Regions from separate parts of the Homo sapiens genome. Here all the other regions are reported to be linked to region 3. The links are microRNA targets in miRTarBase. Many come from high-throughput screens and were not tested one by one. Region 3 holds a microRNA gene; each other region holds the end of a gene's coding sequence.
What was found. Region 3 holds the annotated microRNA hsa-miR-301a-5p (GCUCUGACUUUAUUGCACUACU, at 2,076-2,097, shown strand). A microRNA usually pairs through its seed, bases 2 to 8, with sites in the 3' UTR of a target mRNA and lowers its output. Matches are read on the target gene's strand: a 7mer-m8 pairs with bases 2 to 8, a 7mer-A1 pairs with bases 2 to 7 and ends in A, and an 8mer does both.

Region 1: miRTarBase lists ADPRH as a target of hsa-miR-301a-5p. Seed matches in the 3' UTR shown: 7mer-A1 at 4,436-4,442 and 8mer at 3,161-3,168.
Region 2: miRTarBase lists SPATS2 as a target of hsa-miR-301a-5p. The part of its 3' UTR that is shown has no 7-base or 8-base seed match.
Region 4: the mRNA of TMEM151B is a reported target of hsa-miR-301a-5p. Seed matches in the 3' UTR shown: 7mer-m8 at 3,855-3,861 and 7mer-m8 at 2,615-2,621.
Region 5: the mRNA of SPECC1L is a reported target of hsa-miR-301a-5p. Seed matches in the 3' UTR shown: 7mer-A1 at 2,179-2,185.

What each region holds. Positions count from the first base shown.
Region 1 is chr3:119,586,483-119,592,999 of GRCh38, reverse strand. ADPRH (ADP-ribosylarginine hydrolase) reads right to left here. Exons shown (of 5, transcript NM_001125.4): 4 at 6,355-6,517; 5 at 3,055-5,536. The coding sequence ends at 5,122. Among named protein-coding and RNA genes, the nearest start is that of PLA1A, 8.1 kb to the left of the region's middle.
Region 2 is chr12:49,524,399-49,530,915 of GRCh38, forward strand. It overlaps SPATS2 (spermatogenesis associated serine rich 2), which reads left to right. Exons shown (of 14, transcript NM_023071.4): 13 at 284-498; 14 at 1,546-3,027. The coding sequence ends at 1,857. Among named protein-coding and RNA genes, the nearest start is that of KCNH3, 11 kb to the right of the region's middle.
Region 3 is chr17:59,149,284-59,153,283 of GRCh38, reverse strand. MIR301A (microRNA 301a) reads left to right here and starts at 2,063; the gene lies at 2,063-2,148. All of the region lies in intron 1 of SKA2 (spindle and kinetochore associated complex subunit 2), which reads left to right. RefSeq lists a silencer at 3,105-3,184.
Region 4 is chr6:44,275,030-44,281,546 of GRCh38, reverse strand. It overlaps TMEM151B (transmembrane protein 151B), which reads right to left. Exons shown (of 3, transcript NM_001137560.2): 3 at 2,103-6,144. The coding sequence ends at 5,020. DRC5 (dynein regulatory complex subunit 5) reads left to right here. Exons shown (of 5, transcript NM_182539.4): 5 at 1,157-2,813. The coding sequence ends at 1,366. Among named protein-coding and RNA genes, the nearest start is that of TMEM151B, 7.8 kb to the right of the region's middle. RefSeq lists an enhancer at 5,346-6,138.
Region 5 is chr22:24,414,192-24,420,604 of GRCh38, forward strand. SPECC1L (sperm antigen with calponin homology and coiled-coil domains 1 like) reads left to right here. Exons shown (of 17, transcript NM_015330.6): 17 at 343-3,547. The coding sequence ends at 432. It overlaps SPECC1L-ADORA2A (SPECC1L-ADORA2A readthrough (NMD candidate)), which reads left to right. Exons shown (of 20, transcript NR_103546.1): 18 at 343-553. Among named protein-coding and RNA genes, the nearest start is that of ADORA2A, 10 kb to the right of the region's middle. RefSeq lists a silencer at 3,477-3,653 and enhancers at 4,164-4,773, 5,992-6,413.

The DNA of each region.
Region 1 (6,517 bases), not on the chromosome of region 3:
AAAGAAGACACTAGATACACTTTCTAAAAGCTATCAATAATATATAGATAGTATATGTTAACACATCTTTTTCCATTTTTTGTTTAACTGCTTATTATATGCTAGATACTATGCTGTGTAAAAAGTACAACAATCCCACAAGGTAGATACTATTATTAACCCCATTTTCCACGTTCAGAAACAGGCAGCGCAAGGTTTAATAACTTGCCCAAGGCTACACAAAGTGGCAGAGCATGGATTTGAATTTGAAAAACTACCACCAGCAATAGGTCCTTATGCATTCCACTGAATTTATGCTACCCACTCTCATTCTCACCATTCTCCTCAAGGTGGGCATTATTAGCCTCAACTTACATTAGTCCTGAGCAACCTGAGGCTTGGAGGCATCTGGTGGCAGAGCCGGGTTTCAATGGCAGCTCTCTGGAAAAGATCACAGAGCATGCCTTTTCTTAGTCCTAATTACATAGCAATTACCATGTGCCTGCAACAAGGAAAAAATTCACACCTTCAGAGCACCCCCCTCCTAGGTCTCCTGGATTCAGGGCTGGTGGAATAAGGGACAGTAGAGAGTCCACCTCACCTCAGAATGTCACCTTCACTAGAGCAGTCTCCAATAGAAAGTGTATTTTAGAAGGAAGATATAGTAAGAAGACACAGCCGGCCCCTGAAGTGGGCCAACAGATGGACTGTGTCACTTCCATCTGCTGGCATTGACAATGGGGAGGAGGGTTGTCCATATACCAGCCAAAATGATGAGAAACACTGCTTTGAAGCATGGCTGTCTATTAGTAAATGTTTCTATCCACAGCTCTGTAGATTGGGAGACCAAAGGATTCTTTCTTTGCTCTTATCTCCAAGTCAGACAACCCCATTTTAGACTCATGTTCTTTGGGCATTAGTATTGAAAATTCAGGGGCTCCAAGCTCAAATACCCTGAGAGGAGTCACTTGCCTGAGGCCACCAGCTGGTAGAGACAATGACCTCAAGGCCCACAAAGGTGAAGGACCTTGGCAAGTGGGGACAGATATAACCAAACGCAGTGCGAACAGATAAGTCTAGATCATGTCCGAAGCATTGGGTGGGGTCTCTACAGTGACCAAGGGGCAAAATGAGTGCAGAGGTGGGGGAGCTGCCTGAGAAGGGGAAAGAGTCTGAAGGGGAGTGAAGATTCTCTGCCCACTTCACAATTTTTCCTGGGCTCACTCTGTCCCTTCCCTTCCCCTGCTGCCAAATGCGGATCTCAAACCTACACCTAGCCTTTCCTCTTGACATCACCACTTAGTTGTAGGAAGGTGAAGAGAGCACAGGCTTACACTGTCACCATACTACACCATTTTGCCTCTAAGGAATGATTTTCTAATACTTAAACAGCTAACAATTAGAGTGTAGTAGAGTGTGTACAAAGAAAACGGGCTTTAAAGACGTGGTCTGATGATATAGTAAGAAATATGTATCTGGTCTCTACGCCTGAGTTTCTGACGCAGAGCTCCTAAAACCCTCGTAGATAGGGGTGCTAATCTTTTGTTCAAATATTTGGTCTTTGACCCTCGTTCCTGACACAGAACTCCTAAATCCCTTGATAATTCCCGGGTGAGAGGAGCATCTTTTGTTCCAGTGAGGTGACTTTTTGGTGGGCTCCTGGATAGCCTCTGGATGGGGGCTTGTTGCCAGGGGGATCAATCATGTGATTAGAGGGTTGCAACTTTTGTCCCCACCCACCTCATGACCCGCAGGGAGGGGTGGGGGCCTAAAGGCTGAGTTGATTCCAAATGGCCAATGATTTAGTCAATCAGGCCGGCACAATAAGCCTCTATAAAAAGCTAAAAGAACTGGATTTGGACAGCTGAACCCATGGAGCTTCCTAAGGGGTGGTATACCTGGAGAGGTCACTGAAGCTCCACACCCCTTCCCACATGCTTTGCCCTGTGCATCTCTTCCAACTGGCTAGACATTTATAGCCTTTGTAATATCCTTTAACAAACCAGTAAACTAAGTGTTTTCCTGAGTTCTGTGAGCCACTCCATCAAATTAATCAAACCTGAGGGGGGTTTTGTGGGAACCTGATTTACAGCTGGTTGGTCAGAAGCACAGGCCACAACCTGGGACTTGTGGTCAGCATCTGAAGCAGTGGTGAGGGGGAGGAGGGGGCAGTCTTGTGCCTTAACTTGTGGAATCTGATGCTATCATCCAGAAGATAGCATCGGAACTGAATTAGAGGACACTCACTTGGTGTCTGTTAGAAACTTGCTTGGTGCATGGAGAAACAACTCTCACACCTTTGGGTGTCAGAAGTGTGAGTGCTGCATGAGACTGGGAAAAGCACCTTGGTTTGGTTCTTTTCCATCCTTTGTAGGATAAACAGACCTGGTTTTAAACCCCAGTTCCATCTCATCCTGTGTGACTTTGGACAGATGGCAACCTCTCTGAGCCCAATTTCTTCATCTATTAATGGGTTGTTGTGAATGATCTGACACACAGCAATATTCTCTTCCTCTGTTCTTTATCCTTCCCCAAATGGAAAGAGCTTCACCTACTCCCTAGGAATTACTCTTCTCAACCCCCAAGCCCAGAGAGTAAAACAAATGATGGTAGGCTGCTCCCCAGTCCCTATCTAAATGACCTGTGGATCCTCAGTGAGACCCCAGGCAGCCATTGTTGAGAAGCTGGCCGGGGAGGCTGGTTGGATTGTGAAGTTAATCCCCATTCCTTCCCCTCAATGTCCTAGTAGCTCAGTGGCTGTTTTAAAAAGATGCAAGTTTACTCGCTCCAGATAGGTACAGAAAGAAGAATAAATGGAGAATGTGGTGGTTGGAGAATCTTGAAGAAGAGTGAATGAGGTCAATGCTAATTTTATAGATCTAAAACAAACAAACAAATAAACAAAAAACAACTATTGCCAAGACTTCTAGACAACATGTAGCAATCTTGGCTAACAAAGAAAGCAAATGAAGCAGCATCACACAGCAGGTCCAAAAAGCATCATTTGAAATGTCACATATGACCTCTTCTGTTGTTCAATATGCATAGATTAACTTGATAAGAATGGCAAATTCATACGATGTGTCAGACCATCTTTATTGATTTACCCTAATGTTATGCATAAAGTTTATCTCTTCCCCCCATTCGTTCTCATCCTCCCTTCTCTCTCTCTCTCTCTCTTTCTCTGACACACATACACACACATAAAGAAGCAAAGTCACCAGCTGAGAGCGAAGTTTGGGGTGGAAGTTTTGAGGTTTGAGAAAAAAGAAGTCTGAAAGTCTAACCTCTTTTTGAAATGTGCCTGTGATGAAGAGTGACAATCGGCAAAGCAAATCTAATAGGATCTCTAAAGAGCCTTTTCCTGTTGTTTACAATTGTGGCTAAAGCCCTGCACTAGAAAACAACAAATGCTAAGATCCTCCCTGCATCCCCTACCCCCGACCCCCTGGGGCACACACAACCCTCCTCCACCACGTTCTAAAAAGACTGGAAGGACTTGGAAAAACATTCCTATGGGATGAACTAGAAGGTGGCAGGACTGCTATCATCAGACCTCATTTACCCACCGCTTCCAGCTGAAAACCAGGGATTTCACAAAGGAAAAATCATGAGAGTCATAGTTCTGTGGTTTTCTCAAAAGGAGAAGGAAGGGACGCTCTTCCTTCCCACCCCTGAGAACAGGCCAAATGAGAGCAAGCCCACTGGCTGGACTGAGGGTGACCAAATGAATGTGACGATGGCATCTCATTTCCCAGGTGGACATGTGCTGGGCAGCATGTGCCTAGGACTGACCCAGAAGACACACAGCACCACACAACAGGATTGATGTGATGACAAGGCCAAGACAGAAGGCTGTGGGAGGAGTGAGGAGAAGGTGGCCAAGTGCCTGAACAATCAAAGCAGGTTTCACTCAGGAAGCTCTATCTATCTGAGTTGGGTCTTGAAGGACAAGTAAGAATTTATTATCAGGTAGACAAGGATTGGGAAGAGCATCAAGAAATGAAGAAAGGTGATGTATTCATTGGAACATGATTAGTTTAGCATGGTCAATTTGTTATTCGTAAACATAACTCTGGAGGGTAATGAGGGAAGCACGAGCTAGGAGGCTAGTTCATAACACTCAATAGATACTGATTAATGCCTATTGGCTGCCCAAGCACTGTGCTAGGTTCTGTTTAGAAATAATGCAAACAAGCAAACAGACAATAACAAAATTGGTAATGTGTTAACTGCCATGATGAGGAGAGTACTGAGAGCAGCTCAGAGCAGCATCTCCCAGACTTGAGTAGCTTGGATTGCAGAAATCCAGCTGAAAAATCCTCAGTGCAAGAAGGCAATAGAGGTGATAGATTCAGAGTATATTTAGGAGGTAGACCAGCCTAGCAGATATTGTTAGGACCCCACATATGTCCCTCACTGTTCCCATGCCCTTTACAGCTTGCCCCTGCAAGTATCTCTGAGTCTTTACCTGAAGACACTAAGGTTTGGTTTGTACAAAGGGTAAGCCAAGAATTACCAGGGAGTTAGCATCCCTGGCAGTGGTCCTCAACCAGTGTCAGATGGAAGTCAGTGGATAAATACCCCAGGTTTGCTTGCCCTTCAAATGGGACAGTTCTGAGGAATGCTTTAGGCAGAGGACTCAGATGGCAGAGTGCCAACCGCCCACAGTGGAAACCTGCTCATTAACATACCCCATACTAGCTCTCTTCCCTTCCTGGTTTCATTTCCCCATTCTCATATCGGTATTTCCTGGAATCATCTCCCATATAAACTGCTTGCATTCAGATCTTTGTCTCAAAGTCCACTTTGTGGGAACCCAACTTGAGACAAACAGAAAAAACTTTTAGAACAAGTAGATGATGAAAATGAAGACTCAAATATGAGGTCATGAGATTTTTTGCTTGCGAGACGCTGACCCTATCAATTGAGCTAAAGGACTCTTCAGTGTAAGAAAAGGGATAGATTCTGGAAGAACAGGATGAGCCTGAAAAAACTGAGCTTAAGGTGCCCAAGGGACTTGTTATCTCAAAATTCCCTGAGTACAAGGTTAAGACTCTTGACTTTGGAAAAACTGAAAAGAAATAGCAGAAAAGGAAATACACAAAAGAAGAATCCATCAGAAGTGAACATCACGTCTCCCTAAAGGGAAATTACAGTGTCTTCTTTTGACCCGAGAGAATATAAAGCCCTAGCTGTCTCTTCCAGCCGGTTTCTGTATTCTAGTTTCTCATAGTTGGAGGGACTCACTCCTTTAAAACCATACATAACTCCCCACCAGCAGCCAGCAATGGCAGCTGTAGAATCACTGTCTCCACCATGGAAAAAGGCTCGGTGGGCAAGCTCCTTCCAGGAGTCTCCTGCAGCAAGAACAGCATCGTAGGCAATCATGGGGGCATCGTGCCCACTGCTGCCACCCCAGCCAGAGTAGCTCAGGGAGGTGTAGAACTGATCCCTCTCCTTCACACCGAAAGACTCAGGGAAGGTAGGGGCTGATTCTCCATCCAAAATCCCTCTAAGTTTTAGGTAATTTTCCCATTTGGTTTGGAAGTAGGACCTGTAGAAAGGAAAAAATCTAGAGTCAATTGAAAAAAATAAAGTGAAAAGTCATAACAAAAAGCACCAGATGGATGTGTGAACAGAGAAAAATCCAACATAACTTCGGCTTCTTGCAGTAATATCATAAACTATTTAAACATCAAAATTATTTCTATATAAGTACCATTCATTCAATACATTTTTCATAAGGATCTACATAAATAAGGCATTGATCCTGTTGCTAAATAAAGAGATACATATCAAGTTAAAGGGTAAGAAATACAGGTTTGTTTTCCCTGGGAGGGTCGAGAGTAATGACCTTTTAAAGGGGAACTTCAAGACATCACAACTGTGGGTGACTTCAGCAGAAAGCCTCTTTTTATTCTAAGAAAGACAATGTGAAGTGAACTCACGAGAAGGGGAAGATGTGGCCTTACCACTTATTAGTTAGCTAGTGGAAAAACGTATCTCTGGAATTTTAACCAAGGATTTCAAAATATTATTTGTATACCAAGACAACACTGAAAAAGCAAATTCCAGGAAAGTAGGAAATAGGCATGAAAATTCATGGCAGAATAGGATAGCCACAAAAATGACAGGATTCCGTGTAAGAGGGAAACACCACAGCTGCCCTATTCATTGAGGTATCCACTTGGCTACTTTGTAGAATCATTACTGGAAGGGAACTTGAAATCCTTAGCAGATGGGTAGAAAGGGGGCTGGGGGTGAAAACCATGAGGGTTGCTGTGATCTCTGAATACAAGACATATATGTGCAGGTGGATGTACACGCACAGATTCAACCGTGTTTGAGCAGGGCGTGCGCTTACAGACTCACCAGTGTTGAAGATTTTCCTCTACAAAGTAGCCTGATTGGACAATGTACTTTTTAGCTTCTGGTAGCAGCTCCATCAGTCCTTTTCCCCACTGCAAGGGTGGTCTGCTATTCACAGCATAGGCTGTAAAAAGAGCAGACGCAAGGGCCCCCAGGTAGCCTGTTG
Region 2 (6,517 bases), not on the chromosome of region 3:
GATCCAATCCCAAGAAGTCATTAGTTGGTGGGGAATGGGTAACTTTGATTTTAACTGTTCTCTTGTCTAAGAATTCCTTTACAAAGCAGTGGGGCTTTGGAGGAAGTGGAGGAAGAGGGCAGAAGGGAGATTTTTCTTCCTGTTACCAGTTTTATAGGTTTTTCTTTATTCGAATAGACAGTTCTTTATCTTAAATTGCTCATTGTGAAATTGAGAAAGTAGAAACCTTATCCATTGTGCTGTTCTATCATATGATCATATATTCCTCATATTTCTGTTTCAGTGTCTCATCCAAAGAACAGCTATTCGACCAGATCCCGATGTAGCTCAGTTACATCTGTGTCCTTGAGTAGCCCAAGTGATGCCTCTGCTGCTTCCTCTTCCACCTGTGCCTCTCCTCCCAGCCTTACAAGTGCTAACAAGAAAAACTTTGCACCGGGAGAGACTCCTGCAGCCATAGCAAACTCCAGTGGCCAGCCCTACCAGCCACTTCGGGAGGTAACCTAGCTTCTACACTGAGCATGTTAGGAAGAAAACCCTCCAGATTGTCAAAGCTTAAATGCTGTTAGCTCAGTATATTATCTTCCTCTCTATTCCCATTCCATGCCTGTTTTGAATCCCTCCAACCCAAGTTAGTTCCTGAGAAAGCATTAGATACGTATGTTCCAAACTGCCAGCCAGTTTAGATTTCCTGTTGCCAAGAACTGCTGACTTTCTTGTGTTGGCAGTGATCCCTGCTGTTGTAGATAGTATTGCCTGGTAATTAGTCACACTGGGAGTCGTGCACCCATCTCAAGGTAGACAGGCACCACAAGTGGCAGTTTTACCAGTGTGCATCTGAAAGCAGCAGCTCCCTAGAAGCACAATGTGGAATTTACAGGGAAAGAGAGAGTGAACTGGTGGGGATGGGGGGAAAACACTAGAAAGCTGAGGAGTAATCCATAGGTTCTTCTCCTGTTTGAAGAATAAACACAAGAGCAATCCAAGGCAGTACTGTCAGTAATTCTTCAGAACTGGTATGATGTTTGGAATTGGAGGACAAAAATAAAATCCCATACCGTAAGCTTTCCGGATTATAATGCGAAAGATGTGCTGAATGCCACAGCAGCATACTTTAATCTGTAGTTCATGACATTTAGCAAAGCAGGCCATAGTGATGTTTACTTTATTATTCCAAATGTGTATTATCTTTACCAATGGCCTTTTATCTGCAGAGTTCAGACATAATATAATATACTTGTCCAATCGAGGGCTTGTAACAACCCAGAGAATGTTCTTTCTTCCTTATCTTTCTTCTTGCATCCAGCTAAAGAAAAGTAAATTCTTCAGTGGAGAAGAGCCTGGGCATGAAGAGCAGGGAAAGATGGATTAGTTCTGAAGTAGTGGCTAGGTTGGATTGGCTGAGAGAATTCTTTGAGTCTTGAGAGATAACTGAGTCCCAAGCATGGGATACCACAATTCTGCTTTCAGAATACTCCTGTAAAGTGAACGAATGGGGTACCATAATGCTAGAGCACCTTGAACATTGTATTCTTTCATCTTTAGGTATTGCCAGGGAACAGACGAGGAGGACAGGGCTATAGGCCACAAGGCCAAAAGTCCAATGACCCCATGAACCAAGGGCGGCATGACAGTATGGGTCGTTACAGAAACAGCTCGTGGTATTCATCTGGTTCCAGGTATCAGAGTGCTCCATCTCAGGCACCAGGAAACACCATTGAAAGAGGCCAGACTCACTCTGCAGGGACCAATGGAACTGGAGTCAGCATGGAGCCCAGCCCTCCCACGCCTTCATTCAAAAAGGGGCTCCCCCAGCGCAAACCCAGGACCTCTCAGACTGAAGCCGTGAACTCTTGAGAGAAAATCCAGTTGGCCTCTCTCCTCTATCCACACAATTCAACTTGATAACTGGACTTTAGGAAACTTACAGTTAGATGTAATAACAAAAAGAAGTTTATGCGTATCACTTTTTGTGCCATTCTAAGTATTTTTGGTTTCTTGTCTCCTTATTTCCTCTTTACCATTTTTGGAGGGGAAGCTATTTTTTTTCCTTGATCTTTCCCAGTGATATGGATTGAATCTGGTTGGTCATTTCCACCAGGAATCAGAGGCAGCTGTTACCAGGTTTCGGCCTTCCAGTTGATCCCTCCACTGTCCAGGCTGTCTCAGGAGGAGGTGAATCAGAGCTAGTCTGTCACCTTTCCAATCTAAGCCGAAGCCACAGGTGCCTGACAGGTTCCCTTCTAACAACTATTTGACCAAGAGAGGCAATCAGGGGGTTGTATACTGCACTGGATTCGCCAGAGAAGGGAAAATTTAATTAGTGAAAAGGAAAGAACACTAGGAAACATTTGAGAACCTGCCTCTATCCCAGAATGTGCTGGAGATTTGACACTCAAATCAGTGTTTAGTCTTCTGCTTGGCACCATAGCTTAACCTGCAGTTTCTTCAAAATGCCCAATGCCTTGTTTCCTATTACCTTAGATTGCAAACCAGTCTAGGGAAGTCTATGAGAAAGTAGCATTTAATTAAAGTTTAAAAAAAAAAAGGTTGGGCGTTGTGGCTCATGCCTGTAATCCCAGCACTTTGGGAGGCTGAGGCGGGTGGATCACTAGGTCAGGAGTTCAAGACCAGCCTGGCCAACATGGTGAAACCCTGTCTGTACTAAAAATACAAAAATTAGCTGAGCATGGTGGCGTGTGCCTGTAATCTCAGCTACTCAGGAGGCTGAGGCAGGAGAATCGCTTGAACCCAGGAGGCGGAGGCTGCAGTGAGCTGAGATTGTGCCACTGCACTCCAGCCTGGGAGACAGAGCAAGACTCAGTCTCAAAAAAAAAAAAAAAAGCATTTTTCTGTTTTAATGTTTGGAGACTTTTTTTTTTGTTCTCTCCCTTTCCTGAACCCTATTCTGATCCTGAACCAAATTTATAGCAATATAATTAGTGTTAATCTAAGGCATTACTCATCAAAAAAATTGCTGCAGTCTTTACAGTTGAATAAATAAAAACAACTGCATAAATATGCCCACTTTTGTTTCATAGCAGCAAGTGGTTTCATTTCATTATGTTTTTCTTTGGGCCTCATGGGGGTAGAAGTCACTCAGACAGCTTGTTCCAGGATTAAATGAGGGTATCTGATTCCCAAGTCATTTGTCTGCCACCACTGCGTAGCTTCAGAACCAAATTAAAATATGAAAGCCAGGAAGAGCAAATGCAGTTGTTCCTAGTGAGAAAGGATCATAGGATAGGGAATGGTGACTTTCCAAAGGAGAACTTAACCACTTTAAGAAAACCACAGCTCTCCAGGCTCTCCCAGGTAACCAAAGTTTATAATGGCACTGCTCTCCCCAACTCCCTGTCCCTTGACTGAGTATTGAACGTAACCGTATAATTGAGCTCCTGCGTGTAGCAGGTGGCATGGGTGCCAGACCCTTCCACCCCACACTCACCCCCAGCATCTGTGATTTAATCACAGCAGAGCTTTTCTTTCTCTGGCATGTGTTCTCCCAAGTCTGAAGCCCAGACTGTAAGTGGCAGCCGTGCAGAACGTAGCTGCCTCAGGGCTTCCCTTGCCTCCTTGGCTGAGTGAAGCTGAGCTGCCAGGGTTCAGGTTGGTTGAACACATTCAGAGAGAGTGTGTGTGTCTGTCTGTCTGTCAGTAAAGAAAACAGTAGTCAAGGAGTTCTGGGTATTTTCCAAGAGCACCTCATTTTGGGGAATTTGTCCAACGACACCAACAGCCTGCTGGGTGTCAGGAAAAAGCCCTGCATTTCTGATTAATTGCTTACCTGTACTTTATCAGAAATCCAGAGATTGAAGTGACCTTGAAGGATTATGAGGTCTGTCCCTGTATCCAGGCAAGACCGTACTTAACCACCCAGACAGATGGGACAAGGCATGTTTATCAAAAATGCCTTGAAGTTGAAATTAAAATCTCCTTATAGAAAAATATTTGAAAATTTTTCATGACCACAAAAAGTTTGAAAATTATGAATTAAAAAAGTTTTTATTACGAAAGTAGTATTTAAAATATCAGTACAGAAATATAAAAGGAAAAAAAGTTATCCATCTTTCCACTTCTCAGGGGTAATGACTGTTAATTTGGCATATATCCTTCTACACCTTTTTTCTTTTTAGAAATGGGGTCTCACTGTGTTGCCCAGGCTGGAGTGCAGTAGCTATTTACGGACATGATTAGAAGGGACTCTTGGGCTTAAGCAATCCTCCTGCCTCAGCCTCCTGAGTAGCTGGACTACAGTTGTGCACAATCACTCCTGGTTAGACTGTTTTTAAACCATGTATGTGCATATACACATGAGTATATGGGTTTTTAATTTTTTTTATACAAAGATCATACTGGGCTGGGTGCGGTGGCTCACGCCTGTAATCCCAGCACTTTGGGAGGCTGAGGTGGGTGGATCACCTGAGGTCGGGAGTTCAAGACCAGTCTGACCAACATGGAGAAACCCCATCTCTACTAAAAATGCAAAATCAGCTGGGTGTGGTGGTGCATGCCTGTAATCCCAACTACTCAGGAGGCTGAGGCACGAGAATCACGTGAACCTCGAAGGCGGAGGTTGTGGTGAGCCGAGATCACGCCATTGCACACCAGCCTGGGCAACAAGAGCAAAATTCTGTCTCAGCTAGGCGCGGTGGCTCTTGCCTGTAATCCCAGCACTTTGGGAGGCTGAGGCGGGCAAATCATGAGGTCAGGAGATCGAGACCATCTTGGCCAACATGGTGAAACCCCGTCTCTACTAAAAATACAAAAATTAGCTGGGCATGGTGGCTGGTGCCTGTAATCCCAGCTACTCAGGAGGCTGAGGCAGGAGAATCACTTGAACCAGGAGTCGGAGGTTGCAGTGAGCTGAGATCGCACCACTGCACTCTAGCCTGGCGACAGAGAGAGACTCTCAAAAAAAAAAAAAAAAAACGAAACTGTCTCAAGAAAAAAAAGATCATAGTACTATGTATATTCTGTAGTTTTTTAAATAATATGTGTAAACTATAATTCATTTAGGATCTCATGCTGTGGATCTTCTCCTAAATTTGCCAATTTGACTCTTCTTCAATGAGAAGTTAGGTTTATCCTAAGTTTGAATTGTGTAGCCCATTCCTCATTGCCCATAGTGGTTCTAGGCTTCCCAAAAGAAGGAAGATACATCCCCTGGGCAGTTACCACTGGTGCACCAAGAGGCCTTACCTAACCATTGTTTGTCCTTCTCTTTCCACTTCCTCTTTCAGACAAATGTCTCACCCTGCCCAACTTAAGAGATAGGACTGCAACTTTAAGTTGTTTAGCTCTGCCAGTTACATGACACTTGAGAGGCAAAATTTAAATTAGCATGGCTTCATTATGAACATCATATATTTCCTATGCCCCTAATTTATGGCGATTTAAAAAAAATGTGCTTTTAAACAAAAGTGCAGACCAGCTTTTTTTTTTTTTTTTTTTTTTTTTTTTTTAAAAAAAAGGGACCGGGCTGGGCGCGGTGGCTCACGCCTGTAATACCAGTACTTTGGGAGCCCAGGCGGGCAGATCACAAGGTCAGGAAATCGAGACGAGACCATCATGGCTAACACAGTGAAACCCCGTCTCTACTAAAAAATAGAAAAAATTAGCCGGGCGTGGTGGCGGGCGCCTGTAGTCCTAGCTACTCGGGAGGCTGAGGCAGGAGAATGGCGTGAACCCGGGAGGCGGAGCTTGCAGTGAGCCGAGATCTTGCCACTGCACTCCAGCCTGGGCGACAGAGCGAGACTCCGTCTCACAAAAAAAAAGGCGGGGGACAGGGTGCGGTGGCTCACGCCTGTAATCCCAGCACTTTGGGAGGCCGAAGCTGGCAGATCACCTGAGGTCAGGAGTTTTCAGACCAGCTTGGACAACATGGTGAAACCCCGTCTCCACTAAAAATACAAAAAAAATTAGCCGGGCATGGTGGCGGGTGCCTGTAATCCCAGCTACTTGGGAGGCTGAGGCAGGAGAATCTCTTGAACCCGGGAGGCGGAGGTTGCAGTGAGCTGAGATCGCGCCACTGCACTCCAGCCTGGACAACACAGTGAGACTCGGTCTCAAAACAAAAACAAACACAAAAAAGGGTACATAGTAGAAATTTAAAAGTTTTCTCTACCTTGTCCCACTCCCCCGAAGAAATCGCTGGTTTCTTACATGTCTTTCCAGAAACTTTCTAAACCCAAACATAGAAGTACCTTTTCTTTCTTTTGCATAAATGGGATTCATACTGTGCATACCCTTATACAAGTTGCTTTTTTCACTTGTCCTCACTTTTTGTAACTCATTTTTTTGTTTTGTTTTAAGAAAAATCAAGTATATTTCTACTTACTGACGTGGATGGAGGTCTACGAGGTATAGACCTCTGTTCTGTGGCTGCATAGTATTCCATTGTATAAGTTTGTTATTATTAGTTTAACCAGTCCCTAATGATGGTTTTCAGTTTTCTGCTATTACAAGTATTGCTGCAATGAGCATTCCATAATGCATATATCATTCCTCACTTGAG
Region 3 (4,000 bases):
AAATGTTAAGACTATCTTGCCCTTCTCCCATTCTGAATTCCTCCCTACTGATATAGATATTTCTGCTTAAATTCATAATTCATTTCTGCTAAATGATGCTAATTCTGCTTTTAACAGGTTGTTTGCTTCTCAAATTGGCTGTTTCTAATTTTTAAACTTCGTCTGGCTTTTACAGTAGAGTCAGTATTCTCACAGGACTTCTTTAGATTGAACAAATTCTCTTTTAAGTGAACAATGATGAAGTAAACATTTTGAAAAAGTAGGTTTTAGAAAATTATAAGGTAGCCAGACATTTAAACTTTTAGGTATTGTTTGAATGATGGGGTAGTATTTAAATTCTTTTTGAAGACAGGAAAAAAAGAAATGAGGTTTTTTTCCTTTCTTACATCCTTGCAAGTAAATTAGTGGTAGCTTTTTTTTTTTTCCTTTCAGGTTATTAGTTTGTTTCCATAATTATTAGGGTTTAGAAATGAATTTTTATCATGGCTCTAATTATTACTGCTTTGTGTTGACTAGATAATAAAAGACAGTGCATCTCATCTTCAGATTTACCATGTGCTTCTAGAAAAAAATGTTATACTTGTGGACCAGTTTATTTTATAAGATTTTAAGAGTAAATGATTCCTGTGCTATCTTCTGATTTTTGGTTTTACATCAGTTAAATAAAGGATTTGTCAAGGTAAAAGGAAATGCATAATATTTAATTTGAAAAGAAAGTGTTTATCCTAATTTTGTTAATACCTTAAATTTTTTAAATATTTTTCTTGTTTGTAATAACTTCCAATTCAGAAAGTTAAACACTTATCTTTTAAACAGTTGTCTTTAAAACCTGAAACTTGGCTACCAGCGTTAAATATTCTAATATTTTAGTTATGTGGCCCAGGATTTGACACCAAGACACTTATATTTCAGCTGTCCTTTGTATGAGCCCATTTCCTTAGTAGGCTCAATCCGACTAAGTAGTTGAATTGGACCGTTTAAAGGGAGGTTGGTGAAAATAATGAAAATATATTTTTGCATCAATCAACATTACTAATGGGGGAATAAGCTTATTGTAGGGCAATCTTTGTTCTCTGACTTTTTCCCCTTCACTTAATGATGGGGTGGTATTTGTTTAGCTTTGTTCTTTCGTGGTACTACTAGTGACTGTACACAAAAGGTAATGCAGTGTGATACTATGATACTATTTCTGTTTCTGGGTTTACATCTGACTTCTGATTGGGTTCTTATCCGTTAAAAAAGTTAAAATGTCAATTAGCTTGGAACTAAGGAAACTTGTTACTTAAATCTCAGTCCCACCTCCCCCCATCATTATTTTCTCTTTGACATTTCTAAGTTTGAAGGAAATGGAGATGCTTTCTGCCTCTATTTAAGATTTCAGGAGTTAACTGAAATTTTAAAATCCCCTTGGATAGTATTCAGTTAGATAGGGTTAATGTTCTGTTTAGAGCACATTGATTCCCTTCTGTTGTTATGACAGCCCTTAGTAAACTCAAGATAAAAAGCTGTAAGATGGTAAGTGCTTTTGTGTTTTCTTTGTTTAGTGGTTTAGATTCCAGAGTGATAGATTGAGTATGTAGAGATTGAGAAACTTATTATTTTACTTTTCATTTGTTTTCTTTGATACTTTTATTCAAAGGGCTTGTTTTACATGGCGTTTAATCAGTAAATTGCCTTGAAGAAGGAGCTAACCAACATCTCTGCAGAGAACAAAAATATTTTTCACAACTTTGCCTTAGTAGTAATTATAACTGGTTTTGTTAATACCAATCCTAAAGTATTAACAATACCCATTCTAATTACTATTAAGGCTTAGGGCATATTTACAAAATTCCTTTCTACATCTATGCATGTTTCTGTTCGAATGTTAATTTGTATATTAGTCATCAATAAGCAACATCACTTTGATATTTAAGTCTTATCCTTTTTTAAAAAAACATTGATATAAATGTTTTTTGGTTTTGGATGTTTTTCTGTCCAAAATGGCAACCCTACTTTAAATTCGTTTCTCACTGAAGCTTCAACCGATGCAAGATGCTTTTGTGTTCCTTTCCTACTTATTACTGCTAACGAATGCTCTGACTTTATTGCACTACTGTACTTTACAGCTAGCAGTGCAATAGTATTGTCAAAGCATCTGAAAGCAGGATGCACGCCAGAATTTTGATTCTTACCTTACATCTTTCTTCGGTATCAGTAAATAATTTACCACAACCTTTGTTGCTGAGAACTATAATGTTGTTACTAACAGTATATCTTTTAGAAAGTCATAATTTGAAAAAAAAAAACCTTTTAACTAATTAAAAACAATATTTTACTGCATTATGAAACACGTCTGGAGAATATTTTTTATATCTAAGTTGTTATGGTTTGTCTAAATGAGTAATACTTTATAATTTGTTGCTTTCTGTTACATATTTGGATAGGTTCTGTCAAACTTTAGGTTTTATTTGAGTTTTATGATGAATTGGTAGTGATGGAAACAATTTCTGCTGTATATTTTTCCTGCAGTTACTTGCCCCAAGTCATTTTTTTTTCTCCAGAGACAGAGTCTTTCTCTGTTGCCCAGGCTGGAGTGCAGTGGCCCAGTTACACCTCACTGCAGCCTTGTACTCCCGGGCTTAGATAATCCTCCCTCCTCAGCCTCCTAAGTAGCTGGGACCACAGGCGTGTCCTACCATGCCTGGCTAATATTTTCTTGAAATTTTTTGTGGAGACAGGGTCTCACTGTGTTGCCGAGGTTGGTCTTGAACTCCTGGGCTCAAACAGTCCTCTTGCCTTGGCCTCCCAGAGTGCTGGGATTATAGGTGTGAGCCACTGTGCCTAGTCCTCCAAATCTTAATTGGTGTTAATTTTGTGTATTGTCTAGGAAATGGTTGAATTTAAAACCTAAGAGTGTTTGTTTTACAGTTTATTCTTATGAGATACAATAGTGTGGATTCATCACTTTTAAAAAATATGAATTTTATTGAGATACAATTATATAAAATAAAAGTAAGTAAGCTATTTGTTAAGCAAAGCCGAAGTCTTGCTGTGTTGCCCAGCTGGAGGGCAGCGACTATTCACAGAGGCAATCATAATGCAGCACAGCCTAGAACTCCTGGCTTCAAGCAATCCTCCCACTTCAGCCTCCTGAGTAGCTTGGACTACAGGGGTGTGGCATGCCCAGTGAACTGACGAGTTTTGACAAATGTATACAGTCATGTAACCACCACCACAGCCAGGATATAGAACATTTCTGTTACTTTACAAAAAGCTCCTTTGTGGCCAGGCATGGTGGTGCACCTGTAGACCTAGCTACTCGGGTGGCTGAGGTGGGAAGATCACTCGAGCCCAGTAGTTCCAGACCAGGCTGAGCAACAGAGTGAGACCCCTACATTCCTTTGTGCCTCTTTGTGGTCAACCTCTTCTTCCCCAAGTCCCTGGCAACCACTGATCTCTAGTTTAACTTTTCCTAGAATTTCATATAAATGGAATCATACATTATACAGTCTTTTGTGTCTGGCTTCTTGCACTTAGCATAATGCTTTGAGATTCATCCATGTTGTATATTAGCAGTTGGACAGTTTTTATTGCTGAGTAGTATTCATTGTATAGAATATCACAAACTCTTTATCCACCAACTTATAGACATCGGGTCATTTCCACGTTTTGCATATTATGAATAAAATGGCTGTGGTTGGTCTCGAATTCTTGAGCTCAAGTGATCCTCCTGTGTTGCCCTCCCAAATGTCTTTGTTTAATTTTTTTTTTAGCAATATTTTTTTCTTTTTCTTTAGAGACAGGGTCTCATACTGTCACCCAGGCTGGAGTGCGGTGGTGTGATCATAGCTTACTGTACCATCAAACTCCTAGGCTCAAGCAATCCCACCTCAGCTTGCTGAGTAGCTGGAACTACAGGTGTGCATCACCATACCTGGCTAGTTGAAAAATTTTTTTGTAGAGATGAAGTCTCACTATGTTGCCAGGCTGGTTCTCTAACTCCTGGGCTCAAATGATC
Region 4 (6,517 bases), not on the chromosome of region 3:
CCAATGTGGTGGCATGCACCTGTAACCCCAGCTACTTGGGAGCCTGAGGCAGGAGAATTGCTTGAACCCAGGAGGCGGAGATTGCAGTGAGCTGAGATCGTGCCCCTGCACTCCAGCCTGGGTGACAGTGCGAGACTCCGTCTCAAAAAAAAAATGCAATTTACATGAACACTGACATAAACATAATATTGAAATTTATGACGTGATATATGCTGATATTTTCCTTTACATTCCATTCTATTGTATTTTTTAAAATGCTTCTGTGACCCATTAAATTGACTTTGCAACACACTACTGGGTCACAACCACAGAATGGTAGCATTCTGCCTCCCAACGTGAAATTCTTTCACATTGGGGCTAGCCCACCCAGCCCAGCAGGGGTTGGAGCTGTGATGACCATTGAGCAGGGCCCTCCATTAGGTCACTGAACCCTCTACTAAACCTCCCCATGAGAACAGCCTTGCTCACCTACACAGGCACATACACGCACACACACGTGCATGCGCGCACACACACACACACACAGTTTCTAGAGGGGGTGCTGTTGACTGCAAGTAATAAAAAGCTTAATCAGAAATGGCTTAAGCAGGAGGAATATTCAGTGTCTCCCACAACCAGAATTAGAGGGTTGTAGGGTCGGTAAACCCCTGGGTTCAGTGCTACCCTCTGCTCTGCCCACCCCAGTCTCATGGCCAATGCCTCGCTAGTGCTTCTGTCAGTCCCAAGATGGCTGCCACAGTTCTGACATCTCATACAGGGACATGCCCAGAGGCAGAAACCGGGAGAACACCTGCTCCCTTTTCTTCTCTTTTTGGAATGAGGAGAAGCTTCCCAGAAGCCACCCTCTCTCAGCTTCCCCCTCACATCTCATTAGATTTGTCCCACATGCCCATGGCTGAACCAAAGGAATGGAATTATCTTCATTGCCAGAGATTCATGTTTTTCAAACTAGTAGGGTTGAGATGTCAATTTAGTGGGTATTGGCTACCATTTTTCAAATGGAAAAGAACAGAATATGTCATCATGCGTCACAAATAGGTTAAGTATTGTTTTGTGAAACTTTTGTTTTAGTCACATCTACCTGAAAATGTGTAGTATGTGTGTCAGATCCTGGGTAGTGATGTAAATGACCCCTTCCTTTGCACCCTTCTCCCAGGACGGTGGGAAGCAGCTCCTGGAAGGCATGTCAGACAACAAGACCCTCCTGGAATTTGACTTGCGCCTGTCAGATGTGGCCCAGGAAAGCGAGTACCTCATTGGCCAGGCCCTCTACGCAAACCGAGAAGCAGCCCGCCAGCGGGCCCTGAATCCCAGCCACTTCATGTCAACCATAACTGCCAATGGCCCTGAGAACTCTGTGGGATAAAATGACCTGACTTGGATCATGGCCCCAGCCCCATCCCTCATTTCATACCCCTGCCATGCCTGCTGCAGAGTATCACACTGGTTCAGAGGGAGCGGGGAGGGGGACTGTGAATAACCTTGGAGTGATCAAGGGTTGTATGGATGGAGACATGAGGCAGGGAAGGGAGCCTGGCATGGGGGAAGAAAGGGTATGCAGTAGGGACCCAGCCTTTGTGCCCAGGGAAAGGATATTACTGGACACCCACAAATGACCAACTTCTTTCAGGAACAGGGAAGTCAGAGAGGTGTCTGAGGGACTGTGCCTGCCAGATTCTCCCGTTGGGGCTGCCTGCCTCCCTGACTCCCCACCATTTTCTTCTCTACCAAACAGATCCTTGATCTTCAAACACACACACACACACACACACACACACACACACACACACACACACACCCTCTGGCTACAGCAGGGCTATGCCTGGCTCTCTCTGCCACCCTCATCCCTGTAGATGCATTTCCCTGTTGCTTGACTCTGCTTTAAGTGATCCAGTTCTACAGGCCACGCCATCCCCTAGTTCCCCAACTCCCAACCTGGGAAGGGGACAATGAGCTGACACCAGGGGCTCAGACCCAGTGGACTCCTCTGGGGAGGCAACTGTAGATGACAACTTCCAGGGAAGGATGACACAATCCCTGCCACCCACCCCAGAGAGCTTCCCTGGGAGGGAGGGAAAGAAGTGCCACACTGGGACAGGAAGTCAGTGAGTCATCCACGACTTTATTATCCACCAGTTTGATTTGTACAATCTTTGCGCTTAAATCCACGACAAAAAGGCCACAGTGTGATGCACCCAATTGACAGAGACCTGTCTTCTCCCCAGCCAGGCCCAGCCCACCCCACAAGCCCTTGTCCCCAGGACACATGGAGCCTTCCAGGTGCCCTACATGAGTCCCCCATCACTCTGTAGCTGTCCACCCTGGGGCCACACCTACAGGAATCACATCAGCCCCCAGGGCCACAAGAGACCTAGCTGACTGATTCAGGCTGAGCGCCATTGCCCATCCTCCTTGGGCTGATTCATTGGCCCAGAGCCTCCAGAACTGTGTCCCCAAAGGGCAGGTCATGGGCTACAACCCCAGTCCAGGAGTGCCTGCTCTCCAGGGACTCCTTCCGCTAAGCAGGCGCTGAGCAGAGCACCAAAGGGGGCTTGGGAGTGACTGCATGTGTGTGCCTGTCTAGGCAACCTAGAGTCTGTCTGTGCCTGACACCCTCTGACAGTTCCGGAGTGCAAACGTGTAGGTGTGAGGGTGTGTGTGTGTGTGTGTGTGTGTATAGCCACAGCTGCTAGCAGAAGTTCTAATTAGAGAAACAAGAACATTCAGTGTAAAGTTTAATTTTAGAGATTAATTAATTTTCTGGTTTTCATTTTCCCTGGCAATCAGTAAAGCTACCAAGAAAATAGACCAAAGAATTGGTTTCTCTCTAAGTCTGTGCATGTGTGGGAGATGAGGCTGTCTGAGACGACCTAGGCAGAAATGGTCAATACAGGCAAAAATAATAATAGAGGTCCCCCTTCCCCTCTTGTGAGACCAGGCTCTGTCTCAGGAACAGGCCTGAGGGAGGAGGAGCCACGTTCCTCCTTCCTTGGAGCCCTGAGGTGGCCAGGCTGTCCCCACACAAAGCATGACATCCAGGTGCCAGCTGGCTAAGAAATGGAGCCTGAGGCTGCAGCTCACCACCTGTACCTCACAGATGTCCATTCAGAGGAAAGAAGGGTGCTCCAAACGCCAGGCCCCCAAGGAGCACAGACTCAGGGTCCAGGCAGGTTCAGTGCTAGTAGGCAGGTGGGCACTGCTGTCCAGGAAAACCTGGTGGGCAGCTGTTTCCCCTGCCCAAGCCTCCCTCTCTCTAGCCTCTTCTCCCTCCTCACTCAGCCATCTCTACCTGAAAGTAAAGCTAAACCCTTTAGAAGCCATGGGCCATGGTATCCCCACAATTTGGGCCCCTCGCACTCCCCGCTAGGAAGAAGGGAAGGGGAGCCAGAGGCGATGTTGCATAGGTGGAGGCCACACAGTTGGTGGTGCAGGCCTGGCTGGGCTGAAGGAAGATGAGAGGGGCTGAAGGAGGGTAAGGAGGAGTTCTGATGGCTCAGGCGAAGTAAGAAGCATCAGGGGTGAGAGATGTGGGTGGCCCAAGGGTTATCCTCTCTAGCCTGAAATGTGAGCTCAATCCCTGGGTGCTAAATCTGCTGGGGAGACTTTAGCCAGGGGAGTTGGCAGGGCAGGAGGGCTGTTCACAGACATGCACACTGAAGCACATCAGGGTGGAGGTGGTGGGGGGAGCACACGGAGAGAAGGCGGTGTCAGAGCTTTAGGGGAACAGGACGTGGGGCCAGCGCCCTGGGGTGGTGGCAGGATGCCCCTTTGAAGACCCTGCGACACACAGCAGGGCTTCAGCTCATAGGATAGGGAAGGATGGAAGGGTTGGGCAAGATTTAGAGAATGCTTGCCTCTGACCCTGCCATTGGAATTATTTCTCCAGTTGGGGCTTGTGACAACGTCCTCAGTCCCCCAGAGATGTGTTTGAGCGACAAGCACACTCCACTCCTCCGCACAGGTTTAGGGAGGCAAAGGCCGCCCCCACAGACACCCCACCTCTGGAGGTCCTTTTCCTCTACCCTCCACTGCCCTCTCCTCTCTTACTCCCACCTGCTTCCAGAGGTCCCCGTTGCCACCCAGGTCTATGTCATGCTCTCTCCCCTTAGTCACTCGTGCTGGCCAGCTTTAACGAGTGCTGCCCGGGTGGCATCTCACTCTCTAAAAGGGGTATACACTCAGAACCCAGGTGAGGAGGCCCCTGTTGGGAGGCTGAGGAGTTTAGAGAGAGGACTGAGGTACACAGTCCTCCACATTTCACTCCCCTCCCCACTGCACCCTGGCAACAGCTCTGCAGGACTGGGGAGCGGAAGGTGAGTGATGTCTGTGCAGTGAGCACAGTCCCTCTGGACCTGGAGTGGGGGCCCAGTTAGATAAACAACAGTGGAGGGAGCGGCAGAAAGGAAACCCCAATCTTGGGGTCAGCGCCAAGAAGAGGGCAGCAACATTTCCACGGTGTTGGATGGAGGCCTAGGGCTGACACCTGGCCCCAGCCTCAGACCTGCTGAATGCATTAGCTAGTTGGAATCCAGCCTGCTGGTCACCAAACCATTGCCCCCTCCATAGAGAGAGGCCCCAGGGGAGTGAGGCCACGAAGGAAGGAAAGCCCCAAGTTCCCTTCTCCACAGCCTCTAAATCTCCCATCCGCATGCCAGGGCCTCTCCCTTCAGACAAGGCCCAACGCGGGGCCCACGGCACGGTTGTCATCTAACAGAAGATCTGTTGAAGGGCTGGACAGGAGGGAGGTGTCCCTTTAGGAACTCAGGGTTGGGGCTGGAAGAATGACTCTGCCAGGGGGATCTCGGGGAGCAGCCGACCCCCTCCCACCCATCGGTCTCTTTATGTACAGGGACAGCGGGGGTCTCGGCCCCATCCGGGCCTGTCTTGCGGCCCTCACCTCCCTTTCCCTGCCCCCCGCGCGGCCTCAGTCACCGTGGTGACTCGCCCTGCGTCGCAGAGGGAGCACAGTCCGGCGAGGGGCAGGCGGGAGGACGGCGCGGGCCACTCCGGGGCCGGAGGTCACAGTGAGGTCTCTACGCAGGAGCCGTGGCGGTGCAGCGGCCGGTGGCTGTGGCCCAGACACCCCTCCTGCCGGTGGACGATGAGGACCGGAAAGTAGAGGGCGTCGTGGTAGGGCGGCGGCGGCCCGGCCTCCTCCTCGTCGTCGTCCTCGTCGTCCCCCATGCTGGCCTGGCTGGACAGCCGCGTCTGCTCCGTGGGGCAGCTGGCCTCGTTGACGCTCCCGCTGCGGCTGCGCCACAGGCAGCTGCGCCGGGAGCCGTAGAGACGGCCCAGCGAGAAGCGGCTGCCCCCGCAGCCCGCGCCCCCACCGGGCCCCGGGCCGGCCCGCGGGCTGGCGCAGATGCTTAGGGCGCTGCGCGAGAAGATAGACGAGCTGCTGACGGCGCGCTGGCAGTGCTCGCAGCTGCGCCGGTAGGGAGCCACGCCCGCCGCGCCCGGGCCGCCTACCCCACCGTAGCGGCACGAGGGCGCGTAGCCGCCGCCTGCCCCGCCGCAGCGCGTCCCGAGCCCCGCCAGGTCCATGAGCACCGCCTCAGAGTAGCTGGGCACCAGCTGCTGGTTGGAGCGGATGTGCCACTCGAGCTCCGTGCTGTCTACTGTGTTGACCCGCGGCAGGCGGTGGGTGAGCGGGGGCAGCAGCTCATCGCTGGGGCTGAGGCCACCGCCTGCGCTGCTGGCCGAGCCCGGGCCCTCCAGGCCAAATAGCTTCTCCACGTGGTAGTGCGCGTAGGCCGTGCGGTACTCGGCCAGCACTCGCAGCGGCCACGACAGCGTGAGCAGCGCCGCGGCCCAGAAGGCCGACGAGCAGGCGTACCAGGGCGGCCGGGCCGGGTCCGGGAAGGCCACCATGAACTCACGGAAGTCCACGTTCTTGAGGTGCATGCCCTCGCGTGCCTCCATGTAGTCGTCTAGGCCCTCGTTCTCTGCGAAGAAGCGCGCGCGCTGGCACAGGTACGCGTTCTCGGCCTCCACGCTGGCGAAACTGAAGCACTTGGTGAAGCGCAGCCGCGTGGCCGGCGCGCCCTCCAGCCCCACCAGCGTCTTGGACACGTCGCGAACGCCGCAGCGCGCGTAGTCGAACTCAGCCTCCGCCACGTGCGTGTTGACGCGTTCGTGGTAGACCTGCGGCGCGGGGGGCAGGCGGCGGGGTCGCGGGGAGCCCGTCATTGGTGCCCGCTTCTGCCCACTCACCCTTTCCCGCCCCATCTGTGCTCTGGTTGCCTGGTCGGACCCTAAGTCTGTCTTGGTTTAGGTGCCGGCTGGAGCTGGTTAGGATCTTTCCGTCTGACTTACAGGGCAACTGACGCCCTCTGTGTAATCAGACGTGATGACCGGACTAGAACCAGCCCTACCTGTGCGCATTTAAATTTTTTTTCTTTTTCTTTTTCTTTTTTTTTTTTTTTTTTTGAGATGGAGTCTGGCTCTGTCGCCCAGGCTGGAGTGCAGTGGCGCCATCTCGGCTCACTGCAAGCTCCGCCTCCCGGGTTCATGCCAT
Region 5 (6,413 bases), not on the chromosome of region 3:
CTCAGAAGGGTCCCCCAAGGAGTGGTTTAAGAAGAGAGGCAGGCGCGGGGAGGAGGGAGGAAGTTCCTCCGCCCAGACTGGATGAAACCCTTCCCATCCTGCAGAGCCGTGAGCAGGGAGGCACCTTGCCTGTGGCTCTGGGGCAGGGGTGGATGGCCTGGGGACGATGCTGATGCCCAGGGAGGAAGCATTCTTGGCCAGGCTTTAAAAATGTGTAATTAGGCCTAGAAAATATTTCAAGGCCCCATCCAACTCCAAGAGCCCATGTTGCTATGGCAGAGCCCATTGGCACAGCCTGGAGGTGACCTGCAGTTCTAACCAAGCGTCTTCCTTGTCTGTCAGGACATTAATGAAATGGTACGGACTGAACGACCCGACTGGCAGAACGTGATGCTGTATGTGACGGCGATCTACAAGTACTTTGAGACCTGAGCATGCCGGGAGGAGCCGCCCCAATAGCGGGGGTACCCCTCCACAGCGACCGAGCGACACCGACGCCATTAGCTACGCACCCCTGTAAAGCTTCCAGCAACTCTGGGCTGCCCCACAGCGTGTGAGCCTCCAGCTCGGGGCTTCCGTATTGGAAGAACTCAGCCGTGTGGCCCACAGCTCCCACCAGGGCCCCTCCCACATGACCCGTCCATTCAGGTCATGTGGGCTCAGCACACATCCTGCAGGCCGGTGGCTGCTGGAGTTTTCCTTCTGAAGAGAATATTGAACTACACTAGTGCTCCAGGGCACCAAACAAAAAGGGCTCATGCACAGCTGAATTTGGGAAAAGGGATTCAGTTCTGTGGGAAACTCACTAGGGTTGATGAAGGCTCGGCCGCGGCACTTCCTGACTATTGGCTGGGGTGGGTTCCGGTGCTGGTGAGAACCCAGAAGGAGAGTCAGCGCCTGGCAGTTCCCAGCGCCCTGGGCCCTTCACCGTCCTAGTTTGGAGGAGCATGTTCACCACAGACGTGGGTCAGCTGCCCCACACCTGACGGGGCTGTCCCGGCCGACACAATCCAGGCGTGTTCAGCCTGAGCTAGGAGAGTATCTAGAGGGCGTGGTGCGGGCACGCCAGGGCTGGGGTGCTGCTGCTGCACTCACGCGGCTGGGCTTTCTGGCGGGAAGCAGTTACGGGGGCCCCTTGCCTGGACTCAGCGACCTGTCTTCCAGCCTGGAAGGGGTTTGGAGTCCCAGCTCTGGCTTTAGATTTCTTCATCATAAGGAGTTTTTCTAGTTAACATTTTTGTTTTGTTACGAGCAATGCTGGAAAAGGTCGCTCCTGTTCTGTTAGTACCAAAGTTACATTGTTTCAATAAGCATAGAAATCTAAACAACATCTGTACATTAGCATGGTGAGAGCAAGGAATAAAGCAGGAAATAGGAGAAAAGTAAACAACTTTAGGGAGCCCAGGCAGTGTCATTTAAACTCACTGAGTCACTAAGACATAATTCTCCTAGGCCAGAGTTAAAGAAAGTGCCTTAACTCTTCTTGTGAGGGCAGCCACTGCCCTCCGTGGCCAAGGCAGGACCTCCAAGACTCAGTGGTTGAGTTGTCTCCTACCACCATGCCCGCCCTCCCCAGGTACTGGGTCCATGCCCCCTGTGCCCACCCTCCCCAGGTGCTGGGTCCATGCTGTTTGAACCAAAGCCTTATTTAAAGGTGGTCACTGGAGATGCTCTCAGGCCAGAACTCAACAGCTATTTTTGGGAATAGGGATCTCCCGTGTGCCTAACGCAGTAGCTATTGGTTTGAACAATGTCCAGACAAGACCTGTACCTTTGAGAATATAACTGTGTTTGGCACCTGCATAGCACCATGAGGAAGACCAGCCACCAGTGGAAGCGGGGTCACTGCCCCACAGACTGGATGCAATGAGGGGCTCACAGGAGGCCCAGCCAGCCCGATTGTGGGCTGAGGGGTCTGCATTCAAGCACGATGTTCTAGAATAGGAGTTTAACGTGTCTACGTAACCTAGAATGTGGTTATTAGGAAAGGGGCTGTGCATGTGGGTGCAGCTGGCGGCACACCTGGTCACCAGATGGCCAGAAGCTGCCCATCAGCCCTGCCCAGATGTCAGCCTGGGAGCTCAGGCTGCTGCCGCTGGCTGGATGCCCTTTGGTGAAATGCCTGTTTTCAGCTAAGAAAGGAGAGGCCAGGCAAGCAAAGTCATGCCACAAAGCATATCAGAGACCCCCGCAGACTCCTGGCCCCGTCCCGCCCCCTGTCTGAGTTGTGTTTTTGTTGCTGTTCCTCTGTTGATGGCCAGCTCTGCTGTTGGCATGAGCCACTGATGTTCATGTGAGAATTACTGTTTTTAAGTGTCTCTCCACTTAGGTGTCCTCAGTTCCCACTTTTGCTCTCATTTGCCTTCACAGAGGCCACTCCACCTGTCCGGATCCAGCTGTCTGGTCATGGTTTGGTTTATTTATTTTGTCCTTCAGGGGCTGTTTTGCCCTAAGAATGAGGGGGCTTCCCCTGGTCTGCAGTTCCCAACTTTATCCCTTGCTGGCCATGCGAGCCCAGCCCTGGTGCCTCATGGGATGGGGGGGTAGGGGTCCCCAGGATCTTCTGGAGGAAGGTGGCCATGGATGGATGGGCTGTATCTGTGTTTTCCCTCTGGGAGTCTCATGGGTCCAGCATCAGGCCTGAGGTCAGCAACAGGGAAAGAGGGTGGGCACGGGGAGGGCTTGGCCCCGCCTATCTAGAGGCTTGCCTCGGGCCCCTCCTTGGGGAAGGTTTGCGTGCAGAGCTGCAAGGGAGAGGGTTCCAGAAGCATTGCCTTTTGCCTCGTCTAATAGGATCCTTAGGACACTGTGGGCTTTAGGAATGACTATAGATGCTCACACGTGTTTAAAGTGACATTTGGAGATGCTCTCAGTCCTGTGGCATCTGGCACGAAGTCTCCAAGAAGCCACTTTGCCTCTTCTCCCTTCAAGCACAAGCTTTACTGCAAAAGGGCCAGTCGCGTTTCTATTTCTCTCGATCCCAGGCTTCTGCGGACCGACGATACGTTTAAATGTTGTTCTAGTAAATATTCTTGAATGTATTAAAATGGCTGAAACAACAAGCTTGGGCTTTTCTAGCTTGCCCTCCACTCCCTGCCGTCCCTCTGACGTCGCATAAACCAGAACCCAGCTCCCTCCTGGGACTGGCTGTGGAGAGAAGGGCACCTCTGAGCCAGCCTGTGGCCCTACCCCAAGGCGCACTTCCTCATGTGGGCAGATCCTGACCAGGAGTCCAGGGTGGCCTCCCCTGGGCCACAGCACATCACCGTGTGGCCTGGGGCTGTGGGACAGTGAGCCCTGTAACCACTAGGGTTCTGTGACAGATGCCAAGACCCCAGAGACCGTGGCAGAGCTACCCCCAGGAGAGCGGAAGCCCCTACACAGCCCAGACACATGCCTTCCCTGGGGGCTGGGGAGTGTGTCTCGAGGGGTTTTGTTTGTTTTGAGGCATGTATCATCTTGGAAATAATTGTCAGGATGTATAAAATAGAGAAAAAGAAAAAAGGTATCCTACCCAGAGGCAACCAGATAAACTTTTTTGCCTGTGCATTGTTTTTTGTTGGTTTTTTCGAGACGGGGTCGATCACGGCTCACCACAGCCTTAACCTCCAGGGCTCCAGCAATCCTCCCACCTCAGCCTCCTGAGTAGCTGGGACCACAGGTGTGTGCCACCATCTCCAGCAGTTTGTTTATTTATTTTTTCTTTTTTTTTTTTTGGTAGAAATGGGCTTTTCGCCATGTTGCCCAAGCTGGTCTTGCACTTCTGGGCTGAAGCAATCCTCTCGCCTTGGCCTCCCAGAGCCTTGGGATTACAGGTGTGAGTCACTACAGTGATTGTGAATGCACTGAGCTGGCCTGGAGAACACTTACCACCTTGTCCACGTCACATGCAAAAGGCCCATGGTGGTGGTGCTTCCTGCACACGAGGGCATGTAGTGAATGCCCTTCCCAGGTGGAGACTCCTCAGGGTTGGGAGCCCAGCAACTGCCTTGGCCCTGAGTAAGCCAGGAGTTGCACTGTGACCTGCAAGTGCTTGGGAGCTGCACCCCTGGGTGCCAACAGCTGCAGGTACCCTGGGGTGGGCAGTGGGCAACAGCTGTAGAGCTGGGAGCTGGGCGTGAAAGGACTGGGGCAGGACTGGGCTTGGACTCAGCTCCTCCCTGCTCAGCAGCCCCTTCGTTGTGTCCTCTGCTGTGCGGAAGGGGTTCTGCCCTAGTGGTCAGCAAGCATCCATGGAGCCTGCCGGGCGGGCCCTGTGTGCAGCGGCCTCCACACGTCAGCAGGGGACTGCCGTCCCTGCCAGCGCACCTGGGCCTTGTCCTGGGCAGCACAGACCCCTTAGCCACCACTCCCAGGTGGGGCGGTCACTCCCAGATCCTCCATCCGTCCCGCCTGCAGTGCAGCTGCCTTGGATGCTGATTAGGGTGGCCCTGAGGGGATCCTTCTGTCCCAAGTTACGGGCCTGCGGGGCCCGTCCACAGTGCTGTGCCCCTCAATTTGGAGCTGGCTCTGCTGCTTCCCAGGGCAGCACCTATGGGGAGGGCATCGTTTATACCTTGACTCAAAGTTCCAGGATCTCAGGGACAGCTTAATAGGTGGAAGGGGGAAGCTGTGAGATTCCAGGGAGAGTGGAGAGATTCCAGGGAGAGTGGAGAGATTCCAGAAGGATCCCTTACACCCCTCCAGCACCCTCAAGGGCCTGCGGTCCTGTGCCCAGACGCCACGCCCTGCCCCAGCAGCCCTGCCTGGCCAGCTCTATGGCCCCAGCCCCACGGGGCCGGCACTTCGTGCAACCTCGGGGTAGCCTGGGTTCTATTTTAGGTTGTCCCTTAGGTGAGGGACCGGGGCAGACAGAACCAGTCTCAACATGCTCGCAGCCACTTCCCCGTACATCAGGTGAGTGAGGACAGACTCCTGGGTTGCTGAGATTCGGGGATCTGGATTCTGGCAGGAGCTTTGACCCCAACAGGTCTGGACCTTACTGGGCATCTACAGGAGCTGGGCCGGGCACAAGAGAGGACTCCATCTCTCCTGCCTGACAGGAGAGGACTCCACCTGACCAGCCCTCTCAGGCTGGGAGTGCCTCGGGGAGCCTGCTGTGAGGCAGGGGGAGGGGTGCGGAGAGACCGGGCACAGCTTGCCAGTTGACTGCACCAGGCCCAGAGCAGGTGCTGAAAGGTCTGGTCTTTTGTCTGCACCCTCCCGTGTTTGTGAGGAAGGGGTGGCAGGGGGTCTGCAGTCTTAAGGGCCAAGCAGAAAAGAAGGGCCAAGGCAGGCACCCACCAGGCAGGAAGCAGGTGTGCCCTGAGGGGAAGGACAGGCCATCGCAGGGCTGGGTTGCACCCAAGACTTCTGCCAGGAAGAGCACTGAGGAGTCGGGACACACAGGTCCTCCCCAGGTCAGCCACCGACACTTGGGATGTGCTGGGCTTGTTTCCACCTCTGCAAAGCAGGGCCCCCTTCTGGGCCCTCATATCAGGCACTCTGACATGGGGTACAGTCCTGGCAGGTCATGGGGCTGGGGCCACAGGGAGAGCGGGCAGGTGGCTTAGAGCCATCGGGGTGATGAGTGGCAAGCCCCGGCATGAGGGCTGCAGAGGACTGTCACTGCCCACGCTGGAGCCAGGGCTCCACTCCCCTCAGGGCCTGCTTTCACATCTACGCCGATCATCCCCAAGGCCGGGTTGCTAGCGGGTTGCTGTTTGTCCTGACACCCAGAAGCAGATATGGGGTGAACATCTTGAGTGGGGTGGGGTGAGTTGGAGGATGATGACCAGTGACTCGGAGATCACTTCCTCCGTATGTTTCTTCTGCCTTTGCAGGACCTCTGTTAGGATAAACTGGAGCCTTGTGAGGTCCCTGCCCCATTGGAGAAGTTGGGGAGCACCCAGGGTGACCCAGTTGGTTTCCAGGGACCCTTCCCCTGCTCACTGGCTGCTTGTCCTGGGCCTGGCATGTCTTGCTCCTGATGCAGCTCAGCTGGCCTCAGAGCAAACAATGAGGGCCAGAGGCCACCAGGTGCATCCTGGGCAGGAACAAAGGGCCGGAATCCTGGAGCTGGGGAGGCCCAGCTGGCCCCGCCGCCGCCGGGCCTGAGGATCTGGAGCCTGGATGGAAGGAAGGGTGGGCGCCCACAGCCTTTTCAAAGCCTGCCTGGGGCTGGGCAGGGAAACCAACGCCTGGAGCCAGAAGCTGGGGCCTGCCAGGGGCCTCCCCGTGCCCACCAAAGGGCAGTGGTTGCAATTGGAGAGCTTCTGCCCCTCAGCCTTGTTGCTCCCTTGGGCCTGGGGGTGGGGGAGGCGGGCAGCCCAGGCACCTGCACAGGGACCTCCCCCAGCCCCACAGCCTTGGTATCTGAGGACAGCACTCAGCTGAGGTGGGTACGGGGCTGGCAAGGGGGCAGCAAGGCCAAG